Linked DNA regions of Homo sapiens: region 1 is linked to region 2. The links come from fine-mapping of genetic effects on gene expression. A gene starts in region 2. The other region holds a variant in brackets. All regions are shown on one strand. Distances are between the middles of the regions.

Region 1 (15,451 bases), 35 kb before region 2:
TGGAGTACAGTGGCGCGATCTCTGCTTACTGCAACCTCCGCCTTCCAGGTTCAAGCAATTCTCCTGCCTCAGCCTCCCAAATAGCTGTGACTACAGGTGGGCACCACCATGCCAGGCTAATTTTTGTATTTTTAATAGAGATGGGGTTTCACCATGTTGGCCAGGCTGGTCTCGAACTCCTGACCTCAGGAGATCCACCCACCATGGCCTCCCAAAGTGCTGGGATTACAGGCGTGAGGCACTTCACCCAACCTGTGTATGTATGTTTAAAAGTTTACATTTAAAAGGCTTTTTGGGAAAAGTCATACATGCATATAATTTTTTACAAAACCAAAATGAAGTAGTATAGAGTAAAAACAACCCTCCTCACTACTGGTCTACTACCTTCTCTCTTAAGAGACAACTACCATTTCTAGTTTCTTCTGTATTTTCCAAAAGTCTGTACATATACAGACAAATTTGTCTCACTTTTTCTTTACATAGAGAGTGGTGTAATATGCACATTACTTGCTTTTTAAATTACGCAACTTGCTTTTTAAATTCCATGATATATATGTCTTGGAGGTTATTGCATATTAATACGTATGGACCTACCCCATTTTTAAAAATGGCTGCATAGTGTCCTGTTTTGACAGTATGAATCTGCTTCAATTTACTCTGCCTGTCTCCTCCAGTTGCCACTAGTTTTTCTTACTGAAGTTTAACAGCTCTTTATATAATAAGGAACTCAGCCCTTTGCCACTTGAATTGCAAATATATGTTTCTAGTTTGGCATTTGTATTTTGACTTTGTTTATGGTATTTTTTCTTCTTTTCAGTGAAAAGACATTAAAATGGAGCCACACCATAATTACTATTTTATAGCCGCCTTCTTTCCACTTAATCTATCATAAACATTTTTTCATATCCGTAGCTATGGGCCATGATCTTCATTTTCAATGCAGACACTTGCATCGTTCTATTTTAATTCTTTCCACAGGATAGAATCACTTGAATTCCTGGATGAAATGGAGCTGCTGGAGCAGCTCATGCGGCATTACTGCCTTTGCTGGGCAACCAAAGGAGGAAATGAGCTTGGTGCGTGATTGTACTTTTCTTGCCTTGACCTGGAAATAGTGAACTTTTCTTTTTCCTATTCTTTCCCTTTCTCTTTCTGTTTTTTGTCTTCCCTCTTTCTCTCTCTGTCCCTTCTTTCTTGTTTTGAGACAGGGTCTCGCTCTGTCACCCAGGCTAGAGTGCAGTGGCACGGTCATAGCTCATTGCAGCCTTCAATTCCTGGGCTCAAGTGATCCTCCTGCCTCCTGAGTAGCTGGGACTACAGGAGCCTGGCTAATTTTCTGTAGAGGTCTCTCTAAGGCTGGTCTTGAATTCCTAGCCTCAAGTAGGCTGGGCGCGGGGTCTCACACCTGTAATCCCAGCACTTTGGGAGGCTGAGGTGGGCAGATCACTTGAGGTCAGGAGTTTGAGACCAGCCTGGCCAACATGATGAAACCCCGTCTCTACTAAAAATACAAAAAAAAAAAAAATAGCCAGGCGTGGTGGCAGGCACCTGTAATCCCAGCTACTTGGGAGGCTGAGGCAGGAGAATCACTTGTACCTGGGAGGTGGAGGTTGCAGTGAGCCGAGACTGCACCATTGCACTCCAGCCCGGGCAAGAAGAGCGAAACCCTGTCTCAAAAAATAAATAAATAAAGAATTCCTGGCCTCAAGCAATCCTCTTGCCTCAGCTTCCCAAAGTGCTGGGATTACAGGCATGAGCCACTGTGCCTGGCCGGAACTTTTCTTCTTCCCAAAATGAAAGATGTATTTGGAACTTTGGGCCCAGAAAGAACTAGAGGATGATGTACATGTATCCGTGAGCATATCCAGAGAACTTGCTGTTATATCTTTTGTGCTTTTATAGCACAAAAACCAAGAGAACTGTTTAAGCCTTGTAGCCCAAAACAACCCTTGAGAGATGTACTGTGGAGTTCCCACAGCTGGAAGGTAAAAGAGCTTGAGAGTTTAAAAATCTCTAGAAAAGTAACCGGCGTTTGTCTTTTCCATCCACTTACAACCAGGTTCACTGGATGTTAAACGCACAGATCAGTACATCTTGCTTACAAACCCATGCAGCTAGGGGCTGAATTTTCCCTCTTCTCATTAAGGTGCACATGCCTGTCTGTGGCCGAGTAGGGCCACGGAGAACAGGCGTGGATCTATCTCTGTTTCTTGTTACCTTTGTCCTGGTCCAGCTCCTTTTCAGCTGCCCCCTGCTGGGCTTGCCTCCCCCAGTGGTTAGGCTTTGAGTGTCTCTCCAGCCCGATGGAGGCCACTTTAGATCCCAGTTCCGGCCTTCAGTGGAATAGCTGCCCTTCAAGCTTCCCGCAGATGTAATCCACATGACATGTGGTCACAAGCGGGCAGCTGATCCGAAACAGAACTTGACAGAGGCAAGGACCATTCCCTATGCAAAAATTCCAGGTTGACATGAGACTGATAATCAGCCCCTTTGGACCTGTCATTCCACACAGATTTGCCTAGCTATGCAGCTCAGCCCACACAATCCTTTCACATTTGTTTTGTTTGGTTTTGGTTTTTGTTTTTTTTTGGCTTTTTTTTTTTTTTTTTTTTTTTTTTTTTTGAGATGGAGTCTTGCTCATTGTCCAGGCTGGAGTGCAGTAGCATGATCTCGTCTCACTGCAACCTCCGCCTCCTGGGTTCAAGTGATTCTCCTGCCTCAGCCTCCTGAGTAGCTGGGATTACAGGCGTCCACCACCATGTCCAGCTAATTTCTGTATTTTTGGTAGAGATGGGGTTTCACCATGTTGGCCAGGCTGGTCTCGAACTCCTGACCTTAAGTGATCTGCCTGGCTCGGCCCCCCAAAGTGCTGGGATTATAGGCATGAGCCATTGTGCCTGGCCTTCACATTCCTTTTGGATTTAAAGTCATTTATTGTGAATTGAGCGCAGTGGCTCATGCCTGTAATCCCAGCACTTTGGGAGGCTAAGGCAGGCAGATCACCTGAGGTCAGGAGTTCGAAACCAGCCTGGCCAACATGGTGAAATCCCGTCTCTACTAAAAATACAAAATTTAGCTGGGCGTGGTGGCACATGCCTGTAGTCCCAGCTACTTGGGAGGCTGAGGCAGGAGAATCTCTTGAACCCGGGAGGCAGAAGTTGCAGTGAGCTGAGATGGCACCACTGTACTCCAGCCTGGGCAACAGAGCGCGACTCTGTCTCCAGAAAAAAAAAAAAGTCACTTATTGGGGTATTTGTATGTTATCCTCCTCTTAATTATATTAAAAAATACTTCTTAGTAGGAAACTTAAAAGCTTCTAAAAAGTATGACTAAGAAAATCCACCTGTATGCCTGTCAGTCAGAGATGACCTCTTGTGACTTTTCCCTTCCCCTCTATTTCTAAATAGTGTTTTGTTTGTTTTTATAATAAGAGTTGAATTTTTATATTTATGCAACTTTGATTTCAAGTGTTTTCAATTTAATGTTATAACATTAGCATTTCCCCCTGGCAATTAAAAATGCTCAATGAGCATAATTGTAATGGCTTTATAATATTGTATTATGTCACTATGGCTGAATTAATATTTCCATATTTTTGGAAATGTAGGTTATTTGTAATACTTTTAAGTGAACTCTAGTTCTCACAAAGGAACAATATATTGAGCATTTTAATGTCAGGAATTTACTTTGTCCCCACTGACCCGTGACTGCTTTGGGACATCAGTGCTTGTCTGTGTGTGTGGAAGATCCGTATCTGCCTTTGCTCAAAGTTCAGCACATAAAGGGTAGATTTTTGGCGTTAACTGCAGACAGTCCATAAACTGTTATAATGTTTTCTTAATCATTTTAAAACCACCCATAAACACAGTCTTACCCAACCTTTTGTTTCCTTGCGAAACCTCATTTTATGTAGCAGGAGGGCGGTGCTACAGTGGTCAGCAGTGTGGCTGGTGCCCCTGAGCCGGTCACTGGGGGTCCTCTAGGGGCCTCTGCTCCTGGCCACCAGAGTCTCCTAATGGTGTCTGTGTGTCTCTCCCCTCAGGGCTGAAGGAGATAACTTATTAATCTGTCGAAGGCTTATGCCGAGCCAGAAGCCGAAGCCACTTGCCCTCCTGGAGGAGACCTGCAAGCT[C/G]CCTGAGCGGTGGGCGGGCCTCGTCCGCAGGTCTCATCCCACACTCTTGAGAAGCCTTGGTCACTACAGTGGTCGCACATGTTCCTCTTCCTGTTCCTGTTGACATGTCGTTGTTTAAATAAATCTCACTTGCCACCAGTCGCCTGTGGTTGGACCTCTGCTGGCTGCCGCTGCTCGTTCCGTGCCCCATGGCTTGGGCGGGCCAGGGTTCACCTCTGTGTTAGCTAAAGCCAAGGACCCCAAGTCTGCTTTGACCTTGGCTTACTCCCTGTGAGTCACACCCGGCCCATGACCTTGAGTCCATTTTAGGATCTACTCCCTCACATGCTGTTTGTTGCAGCACATGACATTGTGCCTCACTCCCTGACCCTTGTCCTCCACCAGATGTGAGGCTAGTGCTCTTCTCGGGCTCCTGTCTCCGCCCTGGCCACACTGGCCTGCTCAGTTGCCTCCTTCATCTTGGTCATGGTGGCAGGCTGAAGAATGGCCCCTAAAGTGTCCATGTCCTGATCCCCAGAACCTGTGAGTGTGTGTTACCTTCTGTGGCAAAGGGGCTTTGCAAATGGGATTAGGGGTTTGAGATGAAGAGGTGGTCCTGGGTTATCCAGGTGGGCCTGATAGGATCACGGGGTCCTCATTAGAGGGACAGACGAGGCGTCAGAGTCAGAGGGGCCCAGACAAGAAGCAGGGGCAACCAGGGGATGCTACCTAGGGCAATAGCAGCAGACCCTCCCTTGGCCTCCAGCTGGAACTGCCTGCCAACACCTTGATGTTAGCCCAGAGAAATCGATTTCAGATTTCTCACCTCCAGAGCCGTAAGAGAATACATCTGTGGTGGTGGTTTTTTTTTTTTTTTTTTCTTTTTTTTAGATGGAGTCTTGCTCTGTTGCCCAGGCTTGGAGTGCAGTGGCGCGATCTCGGCTCACTGCACCCTCTGCCTCCCGGGTTCAAGTGATTCTTCCGCCTCAGCCTCCCAAGTAGCTGGGATTACAGGTGCATACCATCATGCCTGTCTAATTTTTGTATTTTTAGTGGAGATAGAGTTTCACCATGTTGGCCAGGCTGGTCACGAACTCCTGACCTCAAGTGATCCGCCCGTCTTGGCCTCCCAAAGTGCTGGGATTACAGGCATGAGCCTCTGTGCCCAGACTGATCTGTGGTGTTTTGAGCCACCAAGTTGGGGGCTTAAACTTACAGCCACAACTAGAAGTCAATGCAGTTATGAGACAGGTTCATAGGGCCCCTGAGTGATGACCTCATATTTCAGAAACATAAGGCTTGTCCCATACCTGTCTGCTGAACTCCCTGAGTGATGGGTAGACCTTGTCTACAGGGACTTCTTAAGTTATGTGACTGGCGCTGCGAGCCTGAACCTGCATGTGCAGGGTGGCACTGCAGAAGTCCCCAGCGCTCTCCTCTGCTGGAGAGGTAACAGCCTCTCTTCTACCATTCAGAATCCTTAAATCAGTGTCCCCTAGAGTGTGGGCCCTGCACCTCTAGTGGCATGCCAGTTGATGGGATGTGTTCCTATCAATAAATACCTGTGATAAAATGTATAAATTAGGTGCAGTAAGACTAGCAACAATTTAAAAAAGAACAACTATAGCAATATGTTAAGGTTATGTGAATGTGGTCTTTGAAGATATCTTAACTGGCCGAGTGCAGTGGTGCACGCCTGTAATCCCAGCACTTGGGGAGGCCAAGACAGGTGGATCCTGAAGTCAGGAGTTCGAGACCAGCCTGGCCAACATGGTGAAACCCCCCCCCCACCGCCCCGCCGCCTGTAATTCCAGCTCTTTGGGGGGCTGAGATGGGCAGATCACAAGGTCAGGAGTTCAAGACCAGCCTGGCCAACATGGTGAAACCCTGTCTCTACTAAAAATACAAAAAAAAAAAAAAAAAAATCCGGGCTTGGTGGCAGGCATCTGTAAGGCAGGAGAATTGCTTGAACCCAGGAGGCAGAGGTTGCAGTGAACCGAGATTGCGCCACTGCACTCCAGCCTGGATGACAGAGCAAGACTCCATCTTGGAAAAAAAGAAAATATCTTAGCTATACTCACTTATTTTTGGACCTCAACTGACCTCAGGTAACGGAAACCTTGGAAAACAAAACCACAGGAAAGGGGTAACTCTGGTATATGTATAGCATTAGCAGAAACAATGTTTACTTTTTTTATTGAGACGGAGTCTTGCTCTGTCACCTAGCCTGGAGTGCAGTGGCGCGATCTCAGCTCACTGCAAGCTCCACCTCCCGGATTCACGCCATTCTCCTGCCCCAGCTTCCCAAGTAGCTGGGACTACAGGAGCCCGCCACCATGCCCAGCTAATTTTTTTTGTGTTTTTAGTAGAGATGGAGTTTCACCACGTTAGGCAGGATGGTCTCTATCTCCTGACCTCGTGATCCACCTGCCTCGGCCTCCCAAAGTGCTGGGATTACAGGCGTGAGCCGCCGTGCCTGGCCCCACAATGTTTACTTTTTGTTGTTGTTGTTTTCAGAAAGGGTCTTGCCCCATCTCCCAGGCTGGAGTGCAGTAGTGCAGTCATAGCTCTCTGCAGCCTCAACCTCCTTGGGCTCAAGTGATCCTCCTTCCTCAGCCTCCTGAGTAACTGAACCACAGGCACACACCAGCAAGCCTGGCTATTTTTAACTTTTTTTGTGGAGACAGGGTCTCCCTATGTTGCCAGGGGTGGTCTTGAACTCGGGTTCAAGTGATCCTCCCATCCGTCCTATTCCAAATTTGATATTGAAATTAGGCCAGTTAATAACCCTACAATGGCCTCTACATGCTCAAGTGAAAGGAAGAGTCACAAAGAGTCACATGCCTTTCACTTTAAATCAAAGCTGGAAATGATTAAGCTTGGTGAGGAAGGCACGTCAAAAGCTGAAATAGGGTCGGCTGTGGTGGCTCATGCCTGTAATCCCAGCACTTTGGGAGGCCGAGGTGGGCGGATCACCTGAGGTCAGGAGTTTGAGACCAGCCTGGCCAACATAGTGAAACCTCATCTCTACTAAAAGTACAAAAATTAGCCTGGTGTGGTGGCAGGCGCCTGTAGTCCCAGCTACTTGGGAGTTTGAGGCAGGAGAATCGCTTGAACCTGGGAGGCAGAGGTTGCAGTGAGCGAAGATGGCACCACTGCACTCCAGCCTGGGTGACAGAGTGAGACTCCATCTGAAAAAAAAAAAAAAAAAAAAAAAAACTGAAATAGGCCGAAAGCTAGACCTCTTGTGCCAAACAGCCAAGTTGTGAATGCAAAGGAAAAGTTCTTGGAGGAAATGAAAAAGTGCTACTCCAGTGAACACATGAATGATAAGAAAGCGAAACTGTATTATTACCGATATGGAGAAAGTTTGAGCGGTCTGTATAGAAGATCAAACCAGCCACAACCTTCCCTTAAGCCAAAGCCTAATCGAGAGCAGGGCCCTAACTCTCTTCAATTATGTGATGGCTGAGAGAGGAGAGGAAGCTGCAGAAGAAAAGTTGGAAGCTAGCAGAGGTTGGTTCCTGAGGTTTAAGGAAAGAAGCCGTCTCCATAACATAAAAGTGCAAGGTGAAGCAGCAGGTGCTGATGGAGAAACTGAAGCAAGTTGTCCAGAAGATCCAGCTGAGATCATTGATGAAGGAAGGTGGCTACACTAAACAACAGATTTTCAATGTAGGCAAAACAGCTTTCTCTTGCAAGAGGATGCCATCTAGGACTTCCAAAGCTAGAGAGGAGAATTCAATGCCTGGCTTCAAAACTTCATAGGAAAGCCTGACTTCTTAGTGTCTAGTATGAAATGCAGCTGGTGACATTAAGTTAAGGTCAGTGCTTATTTACCATTCTGAAAATCCTAGGGCCCTTAAGAATTATGCTAAATCCACTGGGTGCAGTGGGTCATGCCAAGGCAGGCGGATTGCTTGAGGCCAGGAGTTCGAAACTAGCCGAGCCAACATGGTGAAACCCCATCTTTACTAAAAAATACAAAAATTAGCTGGGTGTGGTGGTGCATGCCTGTAGTCCCAGCTACTTGGGAGGCTGAGGCACGAGGATTGCTTGAACCTGGGAGGTGGAAGTTGCACTGAAGCAAGATTGTGCCACTGCACTCCGGTTTGTGTGACAGAGTGAGACTCTGTCTCAAAAAAAAAAAAAAAAGGTGCCAAATCTGTGTGCTATAGAAATGGAACAACAAAGCCCAGGTGACAGCACATCTGATTACGGTGTGGTTTACTGAGTATTTTAAGGCCATTGTTGACACCTACTACTGAGAAAAAAAATTACTTTCAAAATATTATTGCTTATTGACAGTGCACCTGGTCACCAAAGAACTCTGACAGAGATGTGCAAGGCGATGAATGCTGTTTTCATGCATGCTGACACAACATTCATTCTGCAGCCCCACGGATCAAGGAGTAATTTTGACTTTCAAGTCTTACTATTTAGAAATGTATTTTGTAAGGCCAGGTGCAGTGGCTCACGCTTGTAATCCCAGCACTTTGGGAGGCCGAGGTGGGTGGATCACAAGGTCAAGAGTTCCAGACCAGCCTGGCCAATATGGTGAAACCCCGTCTCTACTAAAAATACATAAATTAACCCGGCGCAGTGGCGGGCGGCAGTAGTCCCAGCTACTTGGGAGGCTGAGGCAGGAGAATCGCTTGAACTTGGGAGGCAGAGGTTGCAGTGAGCCAAGATCACGCCACTGCACTCCAGCCTGGGCGACAGAGTGAGACTCCATCTCAAAAAAAAAAAAAATAATAATGAAATACATTTTGTAAGGCTGTAGCCACCATAGGTAGTGATTTCTCTGATGGATCTGGGTAAAGTACATTGGAAACCTTCTGAAAAGGATTCACCATTCTAGATGCCATTAAGAACATTAGTAGCCGAGCACGGTGGCTCATGCCTGTAACCCCAGCACTTTGGGAGGCCGAGATGGGCAAATCATTTGAGGTCAGGAGTTCAAGACCAGCCTGGCCAACATGGTGAAACCCCCTTCTCTACTAAAAATGCAAAAATTAGCCGGGTGTGGTGGGACATGCCTGTAATCCCAGCTATTGAGGAGGCTGAGGCAGGAGAATTGCTTGAGCCCGGGAGGCGGAGGTTGCAGTGAGCCGAGATCACGCCATTGCGCTCCAGCCTGGGCCACAGAGCTAGACTCCGTCTCAAAAAAAAAAAAAAAAAAAAAATTAGTAATGCATGGGAGGAGGTCGAAATATCAACCTTAATGGGTTTGGATGAAGTTGATTCCAGCCCTCATGGATGATTTTGAGGCATTTAAGACTTCAGTAGAGGAAGGAATTGCAGATGTGGTGGAAATAGCAAGGTAACTAGAATTAGGAATGGAGCATAAAGATGTGACTGAATTGCTGCAATCTCATGATCAGACTTCAACGGATGAGGAATTGCTACTTATGAATGAGCAGAGAAAGTGGTTTCTTGAGATAGAATCTACTCCTACATCCTTGAAGATGCTGTGAACATTGTTGAAATGACAATAAGGGATTTAAGATGTTACACAAATTTAGTTGATAAAGCAGCAGCAAAGTTTAAAAGGAATGACTCCAATTTTGAAAGAAGTTCTACTGTGAGTAAAATGCTGTAAAACAGCCTCTCTCGCCACAGAAATCTTTCGGGAAAGGAAGAGTCAACCAATGAGGCAAACTTCATTGTTGTCTGCACAGCCATTCACTGATCTTTCAGTAACCACCACCCTGCTCAACCAGCAACCATCAACATCAAAGCAAGACTCTCCACCAGCCAAATGATGATGACTTGCTGAAGGCTCAGATGATCATTAGCATTTTTAAAGCAATAACGTATTTTTAAAGTAAGGCATGCACATCTTAAAGACATAATACTATTGCACACGTAATAGAATACAGTATAGCATAAACATAACATTTATATGCACTGGGAAACCAAAAAATTCATGTGATATTCACTTTATTGAGATGATCTGGAACTAAACCTGCAATATCTCTCAGATATTCCTGTACGTGAAATCTTTCGAAAGAACAATATTTGTTCTTTTTTTCTTTTCTTTTCTTTTCTTTTTCTTTTTCTTTTTTTTTTTTTTTGAGATGGAGTCTTGCTCTTGTTGCCCAGGCTGGAGTACAATGGTGCGATCTCTGCTCACTGCAACCTCCGCCTCCCAGGCTCAAGCGATTCTCCTGCCTCAGCCTCCCGAGTAGCTGGGACTACAGGTGCACAACACCGCACCCAGCTAATTTTTGTATTTCCAGTAGAGACGGGGTTTCACCATGTTGGCCAGACTGGTCTCGAACTCCTGACCTCAGGTGATCTGCTTGCCTTAGCCTCCCAAGGTGCTGGAATTATAGGCGTGAGCCACCACGCCCGGCCTGGATTTCTTATATATAAGATCATGACAGACATAATGTTACTTCTGTGCCATTTTGGATGCCTTCTCTTTGTTTTTCTTGCACAATTTCTCTGTCTACCTTCAATCCGATATTGAATAGAAGTAGTAAAAAGTGGACATCCTTGTCTTATGCCTGCTATTGGAGAAAAAGCTTTTAGTCTTTCGTTGTTGAGTATGATATTAGCTGTGGGTTTTTTTATATGGTCAGGTTGTGTATGGTGGCTCCTGCCTGTAATCCCAGCAGTTTGGGAGGCTGAGGTGGGAGGATTGCTTGAGGTCAGGAGTTTGAGATCAGTCTGGGCAACATAGGAAGACTCTTTGTTTACAAAAAACTAAAAAATTAGCTGGGCATGGTGGTGCATGCCTAGCTACTTGGAGGCTGAGGCAGGATGATAGCTTGAGCCCGGGAGTTTGAGGTTACAGTGAGTAATGATCATGCCACTGCCCTCCAGCCTGGACAACATAGCAAAATCCTGCCTCATAAATAAATAGTCTTTATTATATTGAATTAATTTCCTATTTCTAATTTCGTTGAGTGCTTTTTAAATCATGAAAGGATATAAATGTTCTCAAATTTTTGTTTATATCAATTGAGATGATTGTGTGTGTGTGTGTTTTTTTTTCCCCTTTGGTTAATGTGGTACATTACATCGGTTGATTTTTGTACATTGGGCCACTCCAGGAATAATTCCACTTGGTCATGGCATATAATTCTTTTAATATACTGCTGAGTTCAGTTTGCTAGAATACCAAAAAAAGCCAGGCGTGGTGGCAACATGCCTATCATCCAGCTACTGAAGAGGCTGAGGTGGAAAGATCACTTGAGCTGGGGAGTTGGAGGCTGCAGTGAGCCGTGATCAAGCCACTGAACTCCACGCTGAGCGACAGTTTTCTAGAATTTTCGTTGAGGATTTTTGTATCCATCTTTTTTATTATTGTTGTTGAGACAAGGTCTCACTCTGTCGCTCAGCATGGAGTTCAGTGGCTTGATCACGGCTCACTGCAGCCTCCAACTCCCCAGCTCAAGTGATCTTTCCACCTCAGCCTCTTCAGTAGCTGGGATGACAGGCATGTTGCCACCATGCCTGGCTTTTTTTGATATTTTTTCTGTAGAGATGAGGTTTCGCCATGTCGCCCAGGCTGGTCTCAAACTCCTGAACTCAAGCAATCTGCCTGCCTCAGCCTCCCAAAGTACTGGCATTACAGGCTTGAGCCACCACAACCAGCCTAGTAATGTTCTTTTCTTTTTTGAGACAGAGTCTCACTCTGTTGCCCAGGCTGGAGTGCAGTGACACAATCTTGTTCACTGCAACCTCCACCTTCAAGGTTCAAGCGATTCTCGTGCCTCAGCCTCCTGAGTAGCTGGGATTACAGGCATGTGCCACCACGCCCGGCTAATTTTTTTTTTTCGAGATGGAGTTTCACTTTTGTCACCCAGGCTGGAGTGCAATGGCACCATCTTGGCTCACTGCAACCTCTGCCTCCTGGGTTCAAGTGATTCTCCTGCCTCAGCCTCCTGAGTAGCTGGAATTACAGGCGCCCGCCACCACGCCTGGCTAATTTTTTGTATTTTTAGTAGAGACGGGGTTTCACTGTGTTGGCCAGGCTGGCCTCAAACTCCTGACCTAGTGATCCACCCGCCTTGGCCTCCCAAAGTGCTGGGATTACAGGCGTGAGCCACCATGCCTGGCCAATTTTTGTATTTTTAGTAGAGACGGGGTTTCACCATGTTGGCTAGGCTGGTCCTGAACTCCTGATCTCAAATGATCCACCTGCCTCGGCCTCCCAAAGTGCTGCTGGGATTACAGGCGTGAGCAACTACACCCGGCCTCAATCTTTATATGAGATATTAGTCTGTAATCTTCTTCCAGGGTCTTCATTTAGCTTTGGTACTGGGGCCATGCTTTTAGAATCAGTTAGGAAGTGTTTCCTCCTTTTTCTTTTTTCTTTTGAATTAGTTTGAGAAGAATTGGTATTAATTAAACATGCATTCGCTGCATGTGTGTGGAGTGTCCTGCACATGTCTGTTAGGTCCAGTTTGTTCACAGTGTTGTTCCTGTCCTCTGTTTCCTTATTCATCTTCTCTCTAGCTGTTCTCACCATAGGCTTCAGACTCCAAAGCTTATCTGAGACCTTGATCTTTTTTCTTTTTTTCTTTGAGGCAGAGTCCTGCTCTGTCACCCAGGGTGGAGTGCAGTGGCACAATCTCAGCTCACTGCTACCTCTGCCTCTCGGGTTCAAGCAATCCTCCCACCTCAGCCTCCCTAGTAGCTGGGATTACAGGCAAGCGCCACCATGCCGAGCTAATTTTTGTATTTTTAGTAGAGATGGAGTTTCTCCATGTTGACCAGGCTGGCCTCGAACTCCTGACCTCAGGTCATCCACCCGCTTTGGCCTCCCAAAGTGCTGTGATTACAGGTGTGAGCCACCGTGGCCGGCCTGAAACCTGGATCTTAACCCTAATTAACCAAACAGAGGGAAAAGTCTGATGTCTCCTAGATGGAATTCCCAGGAGCCTATCTTAACCTCCTCTTAGGTGACTCACCAGCTTCTCAAACAACATTTCTAAAACCAAATACATCTTTCCCCCTCTCCTAAATAACTTTACTTTTCTTTTCTTTTTTTTTTTTTGAGACGGAGTTTTGCTGTGTCACCCAGGCTGGAGTGCAGTGGTATAGTCTCAGCTCACTGCAGCCTCCACCTCGCAGGTTCAAGCGATTCTCTTGCCTCAACCTCTGAGTAGCTGGAATTACAGGCATGAGTCACCACATCCAGCTAATTTTTGCATTTTTAGTAGAGATGAGGTCTTGCCATGTTGGCCAGGTTGCTCTCGAACTCCTGACCTCAGGTGATCCACCCTCCTTGGCCTCCCAAAGTGCTGGGATTACAGGCATGAGCCACCACGCCTGGCCCTAAATAGCTCTTCTTTAATGAGCTTTGAATTCCTTCCCAGCAGGACCTCCACTCCACTCAGCATCCTCAGAGTCATCGACTCCTTGCTTCTCCTTGTTCTCCTCACTGGCTAGGAGGCCATGTTTGGTTCCTTTTCCTCAATCAGCGTGTTTATCATAACTGTCTCTACTGTACTGCTGCCACCCAGACTCAGTCTTCTGTCTCACAAGAATCTTTTTGGCCTTTGTTCTCAGCCTCCTGCATTCCTGTAGACAACAAACCTGTCCCCTGAAGCCCTGAGCACATCATTCCAGTGACCAAAGACTGTCAAAGCTGCCTCTTTGCTTAATGCCTGAACGCCCAACTCTTAACAAGGCAAGGAAGATGCTCTGTGATTGGGCCTCATCTTACATGTAGTCTTATTTTCTAGTCAAAAAACCAGGTGCCGCCAGGCTGTATCTAATGCCAGCCTCTCTCCTTGGCCTGTGCTTTCCCCAGAGTTCATGCCTGCAACCCTGCCCACCTTCAAAGCCCACCCCAAATGCAAACTTCCTTGACCCTTTCATTTTTTTTTTTTCCTCGAGATGGAGTCTTGCTCTGTTGCCCAGGCTGGAGTGCAATGGCATGATCTCAGCTCACTGCAACCTCTGCCTCCCAGGTTCAAGCAATTCTCCTACCTCAGCCTCCTGAGTAGCTGGGATCACAGGTGTGCGCCACCACACCCAGCTAATTTTTGTATTTTTAGTACAGACGGGGTTTCACCATGTTGGCTAGAGTGGTCTTGAACTCCTGACCTCAGGCAATCTGCCCTCCTCGGCCTCCCAAAGTGCTGGGATTACAGGTGTGAGCCACTGCACCTGGCTCCTTTCATTATTTTATTATTTTATTCAATGAAAGATAAGCACCTACTGTATAAGCAAGACAGACATGACATATGCCCTTAAGGAGCTTTCATTCTTTTGGAGGACTGTCAAATATGCCTTACTGTAAGGTATGGCAACCTTTATGTGGGAAAGCCATGGATTCACCTAACAAAAGCAGCTTATTGGCTGGGTGCAGTGGCTCATGCCTGTAATCCCAGCACTTTAGGAGGCCAAAGCAGGCGGATCACTTGAGGTCAGGAGTTCGAGAGCAGCCTGGCCAACATGGTGAAACCCTGTCTCTATTAAAAAAAAAAAAAAGAAAATTAGGCCAGGCGTGGTGGCTTACGCCTGTAATCCCAGCACTCTGGGAGGCCGAGGCGGGTGGATCATGAGGTCAAGAGATCGAGACCATCCTGGCCAACATGGTGAAACTCCGTCTCTACTAAAATACAAAAATTAGCTGGGCATGGTGGCACGTGCCTGTAGTCCCAGCTACTCCAGAGGCTGAGGCAGGAGAGTTGCTTGAACCCGGGAGGTGGAGGTTGCAGTGAGCCGAGATCGCACCACTGCACTCCAGCCTGGCGACAGAGTGAGACTCTGCCTCAAAAACAACAACAACAACAAAACTAGCCTTAGCGCGGCATGGTGACGCACACCTGTCATCCCAGGTACTCAGGAGGCTGAGGCACGAGAATCACTTGAACCCAGGAAGCGGAGGTTGAGCTCTCAGTGAACTGAGATCGCACCACTGCACTCCAGCCTGGGCAACAGAGCAAGACTCCGTCTCAAAGAAAAAGAAAAAGAAAAAAAGAGAAGCAGCTTTTCCATTTAAGCTGGCCGAGGAAGCTTTCCTGAGACTGTCATACAAAGTCCCCTAGGCAGATGGATTCGCATTCGCAAGAGAGCATGCCTGTATACCCGTGTCTTCCGTCATTACTAACCAATTGCATATTTGTGCTTCTAATTGCTTGTGTTAATTTATTCCGTCCCTATAACAACTCCACGTCAGTTTGTTTTAATCCTCACTTTTTTTTGAGACCGGGCCTCACTCCTGTCACCCATGTTGGAGCGCAGTGGCATAATCGCAGCTCATTGCAACCACTTTGGGCTCAACGGATCCTCCCACCTCAACCTCCCAAGTCTAATTAGCTAGGACTACAGGCATATGCCACCATGCCTGACTGATTTTTTATATTTTGTATAGAT
Region 2 (15,478 bases):
TCACTACAACCTCCACCTCCCAAGTTCAAGCAATTCTCCTGCCTCAGCCTCCCAAGTAGCTAGGACTACAGGCGTGAGCCACCACGCCTGGCTGATTTTTGTATTTTTCATAGAGACAGGGTTTCACCATGTTGGCCAGGCTAGTGTTGAGCTCCTGACCTCAGGCGATCTGCCAGCCTCGGCCTCCCAAAGTGCTGGGATTACAGGCATGAGCCACTGCGCCTGGCCTGTTTTCCCCTTCTTTGTCAGCACTGTATGTTAATCAGTTAAAAAAGTCTTTCTACCAATCTAATGGTGAAAATGTTATTTCTGTTGCTTTAATTTGAATTTTTTTCTGGCTATTGCAGAGATTAAGGTTTTTTTTTGTCTGTTTATTGATCATTTGGATTTTTTCTTCTGTAGAGTTATTTAATTTGGATGTAGATAAAAAGGATAAAAGAGATAGAAAAGGAAGACGGAGTGCCAAGCTCTCAGTAGGTTCTCAGAAAGTGGTAGTCATTTTTATTGTTCAAAACATGCAGATGAAGAGAAGCTGGACCCTTGCTGATGAGACTTAGTGGACTTCTTCCTTCGTTCAAGGACTTTTTGGCTGTAAAGCATTCTGAAATAGCCAATATAACTGGTTACTCGTGACTCGAAAGACGTTCAACACCTTGACCTTGACACTGCAGGGGAGAATAGAAAGAGCTGGTGACTTCTCTGAGGAAGGAAGTTGCTCAGGTGCAAACTTCCATCCATCCATCCATCCATCCATCCATCCATCCATCCATGGGTGAGTTCTTTAACTTCTTTGTGCCTCGTTTTTATCATCTGAAGATGGTGATAATAAGTGATAGGACTTATCTCAAAGGGGGGTTACAAATACATACCGAGTGTTTAGCATGGTGTTGGAGATGTAGTGAGTAGTTGAGAAATGTCTTCTCAATCTTGCAGTTTGAGAAGACAGAAAGGTGAAAACTAGACTTACTTCCAATGGCTAGTTGCCCTGAGCTCCAAGTGGTAATACATTGAATACAATTGCAAATCTACCGAGATGGAAAGAAAGCAGTTTCAGAAGAGAATGACAGGTTCTGCTTTAAGTTTCTGTGGTTGTCCACAGAGCACAGCCTAAATTGTCAAGTCTCTGCATTATAAATGGTGTCTAGCTTTGAGAAGTTATTAACCTGAAACCCAGTATCTCTGGAATTTGGGGATGATGTATCTGCAAGAACTGTTCTCTTCTGCAAGTACTTGAAATACAAGAACATAAATTCTTTAATTCAGAGGACCCCAAACTTTCTTGGTTCACTCTGTGCGGAGGCCCCCCCCAAAAAAAATACCTAATAGCTCTATTTATTAAGGAATTAGGTGCAAAACACTTAAAAAGTTCTTATGTTCTAACAACTTAGTAGCCATTTGTAAAAAAACCCCACATGTACACAAAACATTCACATATATTGTACAGACAATAATACACATACACTGAATAAGACAAGTACATTAAAAACATATTTTATTTATATTTGTATTTCATTCTTAAATAATTACATAACCTCCCAGCAGGTTCACCTTGCCCGCTGCCTAGACAGAGCCAATTTATCAAGATAGGGAAATTGCCATAGAGAAAGAGTAATTCACGCAGAGCTGGCTGTGCAGAAGACCAGTTTATTATTACTCAAATCAGTCTCCCCAAGCATTCAGGGGTCAGAGTTTTTAAGGACGACTTGGTGGGTGGGAGTAAGCCGGTGAGTCAGGAGTGCTGATTGGTCAGAGATGAAATTATATGGAGTTGAAGCTGTCTCCTTGCGCTGAGTCAGTTCCTGAGGGAGCCCACAAGATCACATGAGCCAGTTTATCCATCTAGGTGGTGGTGCTAGCTGATCCATCAAGTACAGGGTCTGCAGAATAGCTCAAGTACTGGTCTTAGGTTTTACAATCATATATATATATATTTTTATATCTATATATTTTATATTATATATATATTTATTTTATTTTATATATATATATATATATATATATATATATATATATATATATATATTTTTTTTTTTTTTTTTTTTTTTTTTTTTTAAGATGGAGTCTTGCTCTGTTGCCCAGGCTGGAGTGCAATGATGTGATCTTGGCTCACTGCAATTGCTGCTTCCCAGGTCCAAGTGATTCTCTTGCCTCAGCCTCCTGAGTAGTTGGGACTACAGGTGTGTGCCACAACGCCCCACTAATGTCTGTATTTTTTTTTTTTTTTTTTTTTTTTTTTGAGACGGAGTCTCGCTCTGTCACCCAGGCTGGAGTGCAGTGGCGGGATCTCGGCTCACTGCAAGCTCCGCCTCCCGGGTTCATGCCATTCTCCTGCCTCAGCCTCCCAAGTAGCTGGGACTACAGGCGCCCGCCACTACGCCCAGCTAATTTTTTGTATTTTTAGTAGAGACGGGGTTTCACCGTTTTAGCCGGGATGGTCTCGATCTGCTGACCTCGTGATCCGCCCGCCTCGGCCTCCCAAAGTGCTGGGATTACAGGCGTGAGCCACCGCGCCCGGCCTAATGTCTGTATTTTTAATAGAGACGGGGTTTCACTATATGGCCAGGCTGGTCTCAAACTCCTGACCTCAGGTAATGAACCTGCCTCGGCCTCCCAAAATGGTGGGATTACAAGGGTGAGCCACTACATCTGGCCTATATATACGGTCCAAGATGGCTGCCACAGCAGCAGCGTCACATCTGGCACAACAGTGCAGCCATCAAGGCAAGAGAGAAGGGAAAGGTGAGATGCCAGGGTAAAATGTGACCTGTTTCTACACTCCATCTGGACCTGGTGGGGGATGGCAGACAGGTATAGATGCAGAGAAGTCTTGCCAACCAAACAGGGATAAAGATTAGAAGCCTTGGTCCTGTTAACCAGACCTGGATTTGGAAAACTAGGAAGTTTGCCAGCCAAAGAATTTTTTAGGAAGACAGTATCTCCTTAGCCCACTAGGTTTTTCAGTGGTTTTGAGAGACAGTATATTGTGTATGAGGACATCAGGACATACTCTAAAACTCTCATGTAGTGGAAATATGTTGTTTTGTCTGAATGGCATTCAGGTTTTCCCTGGAAGCCACTAGTTTTCTTTTTCTTTCCTTTTTTTTTTCTTTTTTTAATTAAGACGGACTCTTGCTCTGTTGCCAAGGCTGGAGTGCAGTGGTGCAATCTTGGCTCACTGCAATCTCCACCTCCCGTGTTCAAGCAATTCTCCTGCCTCAGCCTCCTGAGTAGTTGGGACTACAGGCGCGTGCCACCATGCCCGGCTAATTTCTTGTATTTTTAGGAGAGATGGGGTTTTACTGTGTTAGCCAGGATGGTCTCGATCTCCTGACCTTGTGATTCACCCGCCTTGGCCTCCCAAAGTGCTGGGATTACAGGCATGAGCCGCTGCACTGGCCTAGTTTTGGAGTTATGGAATCCAACCTTGCCTTGAGCAAGGGAAGGGTGTTTTTAGAGGACCAATAGGTAGTTTGCCCAGGCATCAGAGAGGACATAATATCTGATCTGAGATCTGAATGAGGAGTAGAAGTTGGCCAAGAGGGCAAACAAGGACTCCAAACAGAGGGACTGGCATGGACAAGGCCGGGTGAGGGTACATAGCTTATCTGATAAATTGTTTAGGGTTCATGTGGCAAGAGATGATTCAGGGGCTAGGAACTGAAGTCTCTGTGGCTAGCTAAGGGAGTCTGGGTTTGTCTTGGAACCATGGGACACACTGAATGATTTAATTCAGGGAAAAACTCAACTAGAACCATGGTCTCTGGGAAAGCAACAATTTCTAGTATGTGGCAGAAATTGCTCGATATTCATAAAATGCCTTTCTTTTTCCTCCTGGGCACAGGGCTAGACTACAATTCCCAGGCTCGATTGCAGTCAGGTGAAGCCACGTGACTGAGTTTGAGCCCATCAAATATAGGTGAGAGGGATATATGGTATTTCTAGGCCTAGCCCATAATAATTTCCTGCACAGCCCTCCACATTCTCTTTTTCCCATTTTGCTGGAGAAGATCTGAGGACCTAGATGGGGCAGCTCCAAGATGGAAGTGGCCTGGATCCCTGAGTCACCATTTGGAGACGAGCCTGTCATGGACTATTATGTGAGCAAAGAATCCATTTTTTGGGGGGTGGGGGGGTGGGATGGAGTGTCGCTCTGTGGCCCAGGCTGGAGTGCTGTGGTGTGATCTCGGCTCGCTGCAACCTCCGTCTTCCAGGTTCAAGCGATTCTCCTGCCTCAGCCTCCTGAGTAGCTGGGATTACAGGCGTGTGCCACCATGCCCAGCTAATTTTTGTATTTTTGGTAGAGATGGGGTTTCACCATGTTGGTCAGGCTGGTCTTGAACTCCTGACCTTGTGATCTGCCCGCGTTGGCCTCCCAAAGTGCTGGGATTACAGGTGCGAGCCAGTGCATCCAGCTTAGTTTTTCTTTGTTCAAGGGACTAAGCAAGAACAGATGAAGGCATGGGTGAAAACAAGAGAGAATTATTCTGGAAGCAGTACTGGCAGGATTTGAGCAAATAATGAGGGGGATGGGGAAGCCTTGGGTCAGACTATCTTATGTTGCTATTTATAGGATGTGGAAGGAAGGGTCTAAGAAACATCTTGTATGATGTGCTGTGGGATATGGAGGAGGTAGAGAACAGGGCTAAAAATAACCTTCCTAGAGGTGCAGATATTTGGCAGAGACCCTGTATTCCTGGGCCTCTCGCTGACATGGGCTGTCAACAAACTGTCACGCTCTTCTCTAGATATGTCCACTTCTGTCCTGAAGCAGATATTTTTATGTACACAGCCATGGGTGAGTTCTTAACTTCTTTGTGCCTCGTTTTTATCATCTGAAGATGGTGATAATAAGTGATAGGACTTATCTCAAAGGGGTTTACGAATATATACCGAGTGTTTAGCATGGTGTTGGAGATGTAGTGAGTAGTTGAGAAATGTCAGAAATGAGCATTAAAATTCCGTTAGCTCTAGCTTGACTTCTCTATCAGTGCATACAAACACTCAAAGATAAAGCTATGAGACAGAGCAGGATTTTGCCTGTCTTGTTCACTGCTACATCTCCAGCCAGCTTAGAACAGTGACTGGCTTGCAGCAGCTATTTAAATGTTTGGTGAGTGAATGAATGAATAAGGAACTCATCTCATTTTCTTTCCTTCCTCCTTCCTTTCTCCCTTCCTTCCTCCCTCCCTTCCTTTCTTTCTTCCCTTCTTTCCAACCATCCATCCATCCATCCATCCATTCATCCATCCACCCACCCATCTATCCATCCATCCATCCATCCATCCATCCATCCACCCACCCACCCACCCAACCATCTATCTATCCATCCATCCATCCACCCATCCATCCATGCATCCACCCATCCATCCACTTATCCATCCATCCATCCATCCATCCATCCATCCATCCATCCATCTCTCTTAGAAAGGCAGTAGAGTGTAGTGGGTTAGCTCACAAGTATTTTTTTTCAATTGTGGCAAGATACACATAAAATAAAATATGCCATTTTAACCTTTTTTTTTTTGAGATGGAGTCTCATCCTCTCACCCAGGCTGGAGTGTAGTGGTGTGATCTCAGCTCACTACAACCTCTGCCCCCCAGGTTCAAGCGATTCTCCTGCCTCAGCTTCCCAAGTAGCTGGGATTACAGGCGTGCACCACCACACCCAGCCAATTTTTGTATTTTTAGTAGAGACAGGGTTTCACCATGTGGCCAGACTGGTGTCAAACTCCTAAAATCAAGTGATCCTCCTGCCTTGGTCTCCCAAAGTGCTGAGATTACAGGTGTGAGCCAAGCACACCCAGCATTTGGAACCATTTTTAAGTGTACATTTCAGTGACATTAAGTACTTCACATTGTTGTGCCACTGTATCATCCATCCCAAAACTTTCCTCCCAAACAGGAAATCTGTACCCGCTAAACACAAACTCTTCATTCTCCCTTCCCCTCGGGCCGTGGAAACCACCATTCTACTTCTGTCTCTATGAATTTGACTAGTCTAGGTACTTCATACAAGTGGAATCAGATACAGTATTTATCCTTTTGTGACAGCCCACAAGTTCTGTGATCATATAAGCTGTGTAATCTTGGGAAACTCAATCTTCCTGACACTCCACTTCCTCGTCTGTGAAATGGTTGTAATAATAGTACCTGCTTCACAGGGTGGCAGTGAGGTTTAAATGAGATAATAGAAGGCACTTAGCCCCAGTGCCTGGCACATAGAAAGTGCTCACTATTAGCTATTAGTTACAGCTAAGCATGTATTGTAAATTAGTGGACACTGGTATTGTGTGTCTAGCACTGTCCTGAGCACTTTACCCGTATTATCTCATTTAAACTTCCCAACGACCCTATGACATGGTGAAACCACTAACATCCACACCTAACAGATGAGAAAACAAAGGCCCAGAGAGGCCAAGTCATGTGCCCAAGGGTTACATAGCTAGTTTACAGCAGAGCTGGGATTGAACGCCAGGCAGCCTATTTCCAAAGTTCATGGGTCTTGCCGCTGCATTGCATTACCTCTTGCCAGTCTCTGCTGCCTCTGTCTGTGAAGGATCGTCATCTATACACTCAGTCCTGGCTCAGGCTGTCACGGTGACTGCAGGTGTTTGAAGCTGTGGGACTCATTGGAAAAATAATTGAAAATGGGATTGCTGTTTCTTTCTTTTCTTTTTTCTTTCTTTCTTTCTTTTTTTTTTTTTTTTTTTTAGACAGGGTCTCACTCTGAGGCTGAAGTGCAGTGGCGCGATCTTGGCTCACTGCAACCTCTGGGTCCTGGGTTCAAGTGATTCTCATGCCTCATCCTCCTGAGTAGCTGGGATTACAGGCAAACACCAACACGCCCTCTCTTTCTTTCTCCTTCCTTCCTTCTTTTCTTTCTTTTTCTTTTTTCTTTCTTTCTTTCTTTCTTTCTTTCTTTCTTTCTTTCTTTCTTTCTTTCCTTCCTTCTTTTCTTTCTTTCTTTTTCTTTCTTTTTCTTTCTTTCTTTCTTTCTTTCTTTCTTTCTTTCTTTCTTTCTTTCTTTCTTTTTCTTTCTTTCTTTCTTTCTTTCTTTCTTTCTTTCTTTCTTTCTTTCTTTCTTTCTTTTCTTTCCTTTCTTTCTTTCTCTGTCTTTCTTTCTTCTTTCTCTTTCCTTTTTTTTTTTTTTCAGAGCCTTGCTCTGTTGCCCAGGCTGGAGTGCAGTTGCACAATCTTGGCTCTGCGCAATCTTCGTCTCCCAGGTTCAAATGATTTTCCTGCCTTAGCCCCCCAAGTAGCTGGGATTACAGGCGTGCACCACCACGCCCGGCTGAGTTTTGTATTTTTAGTAGAGACGGGGTTTCACCGTGTTAGCCAGGATGGTCTCAATCTCCTGACCTCGTGATCCACCTGCCTCGGCCTCCCAAAGTGCTGGGATTACAGGCGTGAGCCACTGCACCTGGCTGTTTGCTGTTTCTTAACATGTGAGGTTCCAACCCAGTGGGGCCCACTAACATGTGCTGTTCTGCTTTGGACCGTGGGGAGCTGGGGTGCTGGACCCATCTCCCACCTTCTACAGCCTGGAGTGTGCTCCCAGATGACACAGCCAAGCTGGCGTGTTTTTCCCTCACTGGCGGAAAGTTCAGCAATCCCTGACTCCCTCACCCTGCCCTGTTGAGATTTAAAAAAATTTCCTCTTCTGGGCCTCAGAGCCGCCTCCTACCTGAGGTTTATTGCTTTCTCTGCACCAGCATTGAGCCTCTGCAGCCCTTTAAAAGGGGCAGAGCCCATAGTGTGATCAGCAGGTCCTGTCCCTAGGAGATAAGAGTATCTTGCACAGCAGGTGCAGGTTTCCCAGCAGCTCAGGCAAGAGTCCGATGTTTGTGCCATCTGATCCTGATGTCTGGAGAGGTGAGCCCTCTGTCGGCATCTTCCTCTCCAGGCTGGCAGAGCAAGGGGGGCTGTGAATTAATTCAAGGTTGGGGGTCGGGGCCTTCTATATCTGGACTTGCCTCCCACCCGTGTCCTCTGTCCCTTTTTCCCTACGGCAGATAGCCATGTGTGAGCCTGAATTTGGCAATGACAAGGCCAGGGAGCCGAGCGTGGGTGGCAGGTGGCGAGTGTCCTGGTACGAACGGTTTGTGCAGCCATGTCTGGTCGAACTGCTGGGCTCTGCTCTCTTCATCTTCATCGGGTGCCTGTCGGTCATTGAGAATGGGACGGACACTGGGCTGCTGCAGCCGGCCCTGGCCCACGGGCTGGCTTTGGGGCTCGTGATTGCCACGCTGGGGAATATCAGGTGAGACCAGCTCTGAGGATTCAGCCTGATGCTGACTTGGGGCACTGGGTGTGGAAAGCAAAGGCGTTGTCAAGGACCCCTGGGCGCATACGTATTCGGGATTTCAAGGAGCGCTCTGGATAACTATGGGGTTGGGAGTCAGACTGGGGTCAACTCCAGACCCCGCAGCCTGTGAGCTTGTGACTTTGAGCAAGTCATTCTCTTTTTGAGTAGCTGGATCACAGGCATGCGCCGCAGCACCCAACTAATTTTTAAATTTTGTTGTAGAGATGGGGTCTCACTATGTTGCCCAGGCTAGTCTTGAACTCCTGGTCTCAAGCGATCCTCCTGCCTTGGCTTCCCAAAGTTTTGGGATTACAGGCATGAGACACCATGCCTGGCTGGCAAGTTACTCTCTAAACCCAAAGTTCCCCGCCTATAAAATGGGAATAGTAGCTTTTAAATGTTTTTTTTTTCAAGCCAACATATCTATATTGCTAACCATGTACCAGGCACTAGTCTAATTACTTTATAGATATTAGTTATTTAATCCTCACAAAAGCCTTGTGGGGTAGGTCCTGTTATTAGCCCCATTGTACAGCTGCAAAAGTGAAAGGCCATGTAATCTGTCCAAGCTTAGAGGGCCAGAAAGTGGCAGAGGCGGGAGTCAAGAACAAGCTGTCTGGCTCCAGCGCTCAAATCCAAGTGCCTCATGCGGAAGTCATGAGAATTAAATGAAGTAGAGCGCCTGGCACACACCAAACATACAACAGGCATTGGTTGCTGTGTTATTGTTACCACTAGAAGGGGGTTTTAGGGAAAGCAGAAATGCATAGAAGACCTGAGCCAGGTTTTCCCACCTGGGTATGCAGAGATCTGCAGTGGTCCTGGCTTGTCAAGAGGTGATCAAGAAGGAGGGGCAGGGAAAGGGACAGGCTTCTCTGGCTTAGCTCTCGTCTGGGTAGAGGCTCAATGGGGAGGTCTGTGGACATGGCTGCTGGTTCCCAGGAGAGCCAGCCATCACGACGAAGATCTTGAGTGGGGTGCCTGGCAGGGTGATCTGGGACATGGTTGGTCTGTATTAAATCTCACTCAAAAAATAGATCTGAATGAGGAAACAGAAATACTATTTCTGAGAAAACCAGAATGGAAAAGAGCTTTAACATCTCTTTAGGCCGGGTGCAGTGGCTCACGCCTGTAATCCCAGCACTTTGGGAGGCTGAGGCGGGTGGATCACCTGAGGTCAGGAGTTGGAGAGCAGCCTGGCCAACAGGGTGAAACCCTGTCTCTACTAAAGATACAAAAATTAGCTGGGCGTGGGGGCAGGCACCTGTGGTCCCAGCTACTTCGGAGGCTGAGGCAGGAGAATTGCTTGAACTGGGAGGGAGAGGTTGCAGTGAGCCGAGATTGTGCCACTGCACTCCAGCCTGGGCAACAGAGTGAGACTCCATCTCCAAAAAACAAACAAACAAACAAACAAACAAAAAACAAACCACATCTCTTTAGACGTCCAAGGGAGGCTGCAAGTGAAACAAAAAGTACATGATCTTCCCTTTGGACGGATCTGAGATTGAAGGCAACCTTTATCACTTCTTAGCAGGGTGACCACAGCAAGTTGCTGAAGCCTCTGTGTGCAGTGGTATAAATATGAGTAATAATAATAGCTGATGTTTTTTGAATGCTAACTACATAGATACTACTATGGGCTGTACAAATATTAATTCTTAATATCTTTGCAATAGCTTTATCAGGCAGAGATCATTGAGGCACAGAGAGGTTATGTAACTTTGCCAATGCCACACAGCTCTTCAGTGGCAGAGTTGAGCTTTGAACCCAGGCCAGCTGGCTGGAAAGACCATCTCTTTGGCACTGCAAATACTGCCTCTCTGTTTGGCTTTTTTGACAAATATTTATTCAGCACCTATTGCGTGCCAGACACTGACTTTGAGGTTGTTCACTGGATCCAGGATAAGCTATGTATGTAAGTTATAAGCACCCAGCACAGCCCCTGGCACACAGTAAGTGTCAGAGAAATATATGCTGAGTGAACAATGAATGAATGAATGAATGTGTCTTGATTGTTTTATTGCTAATGAGTGTAAACCAGGAAATGTGTGGTTTTCGTCACCTGGCCCTCCTGATAGAGCCATGCTCTGGGTGACAGTTTCTCTCCCCTTTGGGGCTCCCCTGGGAAGCCGCCTCACCCTGACTTCATCTGTGTATCTCAGCAGAGCCCAGGCTAAGCTACTTGAGGCCAAGTAGGCCTGGCTGCCCCTCTTCCCAACCTGTGGAGTCTGAGCACTGGCTGGTGCTTTCAAACCATGCATGGAGGTCAGGCGCAGTGGCTCACGCCTGTAATCCCAGCACTTTGGGAGGCCGAGGCAGGTGAATCACCTGAGGTCAGGAGTTCGAGACCAACCTGGCCAACATGGTGAAACCCCGTCTCTACCAAAAATACAAAAATTAGCCGGGCGTGGTGGCAGCCCCGTTATCCCATCTACTTGGGAGGCTGAAGCAGAAGAATCGCTTGAAACCAGGAGGCGGAGGTTGCAGTGAGCCGAGATTGCACCATTGCACTCCAGCCTGGGTGACAAAGGGAGACCCTGTCTCAAAAAAAAAAACAAAAAACAAAAAACAAATCAAATCAAACCGTGCATGGAGCTTATCTGAGGGCCTGGGCCCAGAGCTGAGCCAGACAAGTTGGGGTAGCTGGTCTCGAGCTATCAGGGTGTTGGACAAAGTCCTTTTGGGCAGAGCTGAGGTCCTCTGCCCAGTCTCAACTGAATGTCCTATGTCCTTTGGAGGATGGGTAAGCTCATTGGTGGGCTCTTTACATTAGGGGGGCACTTTGGTTCTCAAGTGACATGGGGAGTCTTGGGGTCCCTTTCTCTCTCATTGGGGAGTATCCATTCCTGGAAACCAGATGGATTCAGGAGGCCAAACTGTGACAATATTTCCTCCATCAGAGTGGGACTGGTTGGGACACTGATGTGAGTGCAGCCACCCTGGCTCTGGGGCCTGGGCTGGTTGAACATCTTGGTGAACACGAAGGCTCTTTACCCATGAGCCAGGGGGTGGCTGATCAACTGCAACCTGCCCTTTGACCTCAGGTTCTGACTTGTCTAATTCCCTTCCACACCCCAAACTCCCAATCCCAATCCCTAACCTGGTCATGAACCTCCAACTCCACCCCGTGATTCTCAATGCCATTTTCAGCCTGAACTCCAAATCTGCATTTTACACCCATCACACTTTCAGACCACAAGTAGGGTTTTCACTGGCTGAGCAGTTCAACCAATCAGGAGGTCTTATTCAGGGCCTAGCTACTCATAAAGGGAGACCCGGGCCGGGCACGGTAGCTCGTGCCTGTAACCCCAGCACTTTGGGAGGCCGACGTGGGTGGATCGCTTGAGGTCAGGAGTTTGAGACCAGCCTGACCAACATGGTGAAACCTCGTCTCTACTAAAAATACAAAAATAAGCCAGGCGTGGTGGCACACACCTGTAGTTCCAGCTACTTAGGAGGCTGAGTCAGAAGAATTGCTTGAACTCAAAAGGTGGAAGCTGCAGTGAGCCGAGATCACACCATTGCACTGCAGCCCGCGCGACAGAGCAAGACTCCGTCTCGTAAAATCAAACAAATCATAAGGGGAGGCCTGGATACCGCTCTTGGGCTACTAACTTGGAGCCTTGGTATCTCAATCTGACCTGTGGCCACATCTCTGAAGGGCTGGAGGGAGGCTTGGAGGGAGTCAGGGAGGAGTTAAGGGATGGTCTCCCTACACGCTCTTCCTCCAGGGCCATCCTGGGGGCTGGGCTTTGGACTTAGAGGCTGCCCTTTATCTCTTACCCTCTGCCTGGCATCTCAGGGAAAATGGAAGCAATTTGGTGCCTCTTTGTATTTGAGCTGGGCCCCGGACTGACTCTTGCCCTGAGAGGCCAGCCTGGTGGGTTGGCTGGGACACACTGTCTCAAGTGCCAGCCATGTGGTCAGCCCTGGGCTCATGACTTCCTCTGCTCTTGTGGGTTACAGTGGTGGACACTTCAACCCTGCGGTGTCCCTGGCAGCCATGCTGATCGGAGGCCTCAACCTGGTGATGCTCCTCCCGTACTGGGTCTCACAGCTGCTCGGGGGGATGCTCGGGGCTGCCTTGGCCAAGGTGGGTAAACCCCAGGGGCTGGGCTAGTCTTCCTCTCTGATGGGGCTGCTGGAGGTGCATATGTGGGTGTGTGTGTGGGACAGTGGGGAGTGGGGAAATGTCCAATCTTTTGCTTGTTTCTGCCAGTGGAATTGGTGGACGTTTTTCTTCTCTCTTTCTTTCTTATTGCATTTTATTGTATTTTTTATTTGTTTGTTTTTTTGAGATGGAGTCTTGCTCTGTCACCCAGGCTGGAGTGCAGTGGCCTGATCTTGGCTCACTGCAACCTCTGCCTCCTGGGCTCAAGCAATTCTCCCACCTCAGCCTCCTGAGTAACTGGGATTACAGGCGCATGCCACCATGCCCAGCTAATTTTTGTATTTTTAGTAGAGACGGGGTTTCATCATGTTGGCCAGGCTGGTCTTGAACTACTGAGCTCAAGTGATCTACCTGCCTTGGTCTCCCAAAGTGCTGGGGTTACAGGCATGAGCCACTGTGCCCGGCCTCTCTTTTTTATTTTAGAGATAGGGTCTCACTCTGTTGTCCAGGCTGGAGTGTGGTGGTGCAATCATAGCTCACTGCAGGCTCGACCTCCTGGGCTCAAGTGATCCTCCTGCCTCAGCCTCTTGAGTAGCTGGGACTACAGGTGTGTGTCACCACACCCAACTAATTTCCTCTGCCTAGGAAAACCAGAGACCTTTGTTCACTTGTTTATCTGCTGACCTTCCCTCCACTATTGTCCTATGACCCTGCCAAATCCCCCTCTGTGAGAAACACCCAAGAATTATCAATAAAAAATAAATAAATTAAAAAAAATTTTTTTCTGTAGAGGTGGGCTCTCGCTGTGTTGACCACATTGGCCTCCAACTCCTGGCCTCAAGTGATCTTCCTGCCTTGGCCTCCCAAAGTGCTGGGATTACAGACATGAGCCACCGAGCCTGGCCAGCCACAGAGTTTTCATAGCTTTATGCATAAATCCATGGATAGACTTTCTCCCTTCATCCCTCTTTTTCTTTTTTTTCCCTCTCTTTCTTTCTTTTCTTTTGCCCTTAAGTCTTGGTTCAGCCAGGGATACTTCAAGCCCTTCAAGATGTGGGCCTTGCTTGGTGTGTGTGTGGGGGGTGGTGGATGGGGGAGCTCTGTCAGCTTGGCTGTGATAGGGTCTGAAGCTGTAAGTGCTGACCCACCGCAGACTTTGTTCTCAAGCCTCACTTTACTGTCATCCCCTGCTGTGGTCTCTCCATGTCCCAATTTGAGAGCCACAGCCTGTTCCCCTGTCTATGGAACACGCCCGGGACCTTCCTTCTCGGCTTCTGCTCTGAAAAGCAGTGGCCAGACTCGAGCTCAAGCCCTGCCACTTAAAACCTGTCAAACATGGTTCTGACAGCTGCGGGGCAGCAGGGTTCCCTAAGCACATTCTTCCTGCTAAATGTTTTACACATATTCTCTTATTTCATCTCCCAGCAACTTTATGAAAAACCATAGTCAGTTCATAGAGAGCGCTTACCTTGTGCCAGGCACACCAACGGCCTTGTCTGTGAGCTGGGAGCTGTCAGTATCATCCCTATTTTATAGATGAGAAAACAGAGGTGCAGAGAAGCAGGTAACTTGCTCAAGTTCAGACGTGCCTGTAAGCAGCACAGCCCCGACTGGATCCAGAGTCCAGAAGCTTGTGCACTGCACTGTCTTTCCCCTTCGGGGCTGTGATAGCCCTGAGGCCGATCGCCCATAGAAATAATTGAGCTCAGGCTTCAGGGCTCTCCTGCACATGCCCCTTCCACGGTCCTGTGGGGGCTTAGCAATGAGTTCACCTGATCATATGTGTTTGTAAAGTTTCTAAGAGTAAGGTATTTTTAGCCACGCATGGCGGCTGGTGCCTGTAATCCCAGCATTTTGGGAGGCAGAGGCGGGAGGATCACTGGAGCCTAGGAGTTCCAGACCAGCCTGGGCAACATAGTAAGACCTTCCATCTCTACAAAAAATTTTAAAAAAAACATTAGGTGGGCATGGTTGGTATGTACCTGTGGTCCCAGCTACATGAGAGGCTGAGGTAGGAGGAACACTGGAGCCCAGGAGGTCCAGGCTGCAGTGAGCTATGATCGTGTCACTGCACTCCAGCCTGGGTGACAGAGCTAGACTCTGTGTCAAAGAAAAATAAAAAGATAGTTTATGTTCTTTTTCTCAAAGAGGATCATCTAAGTTACATAAGTTTTAGGTCTGTAACCTGGAGCCATGACTGGGTTATCCCCATTTTTCTTTTTCTTTTTCTTTTTTTTTTTTTTGAGACGGAGTCTTGCTCTGTTGTTCAAGCTGGAGTGCAGTGGTGTGATCTCAGCTCACTGCAACCTCTGCTTCCAGAGTTCAAGTGATTCTGGTGCCTCAGCCTCCTGAGCAGCTGGGATTACAGGTGCCTGCCACTTCACCCCGCTAATTTTTGTATTTGTAGTGGAGATGGGGTTTCACCATGTTGGCAAGGCTGGTCTCAAACTCCTGGGCTCTAGTGACCCACCCATCTCAGCCTCCCAAAGTGCTGGGGTTGCTGGCGTGAGCCACCACGCCTAGCCCCATTACTATTTTTCAGCTGAACAAAGTGAGGCTCAGAAAGGTTCAGTAGTTCACGCAGGGTCGCACAGTAAAATCTGGCAGAGCTGGGATGTGGATGCAGGTATATCTAACTGAAATTGGACATAACCCTTCACTGGCTCTTAAGGTGGGTAGCATGCGTTTTTTAGGCCCTCTCCCCTCAGTTTCCAGCTGTCTCTCTGCCCCACTGTGAGGCTCAGCAGCTTCTCTGTGCAGGCGGTGAGTCCTGAGGAGAGGTTCTGGAATGCATCTGGGGCGGCCTTTGTGACAGTCCAGGAGCAGGGGCAGGTGGCAGGGGCGTTGGTGGCAGAGATCATCCTGACGACGCTGCTGGCCCTGGCTGTATGCATGGGTGCCATCAATGAGAAGACAAAGGGCCCTCTGGCCCCGTTCTCCATCGGCTTTGCCGTCACCGTGGATATCCTGGCTGGGTGAGTGTCCCTTGGCAGTGGGGTGACCATGCCCAGATCTGTGCTGTTCAGCTCTGGGGGATTTCAGGCCTGAGGGTCACAGATTCA

The links.
Region 1: its variant is fine-mapped to the expression of AQP8 in tibial nerve (GTEx, PIP above 0.99).

What each region holds. Positions count from the first base shown.
Region 1 is chr16:25,173,959-25,189,409 of GRCh38, forward strand. It overlaps LCMT1 (leucine carboxyl methyltransferase 1), which reads left to right. Exons shown (of 11, transcript NM_016309.3): 10 at 979-1,076; 11 at 4,043-4,270. The coding sequence ends at 4,065. It also overlaps the pseudogene RN7SL557P. Among named protein-coding and RNA genes, the nearest start is that of LCMT1-AS2, 33 kb to the left of the region's middle. The variant C/G (reference allele first, on the strand shown) is at 4,133.
Region 2 is chr16:25,209,186-25,224,663 of GRCh38, forward strand. AQP8 (aquaporin 8) reads left to right here and starts at 7,762. Exons shown (of 6, transcript NM_001169.3): 1 at 7,762-7,872; 2 at 8,013-8,260; 3 at 12,272-12,398; 4 at 15,177-15,391. The coding sequence starts at 7,861.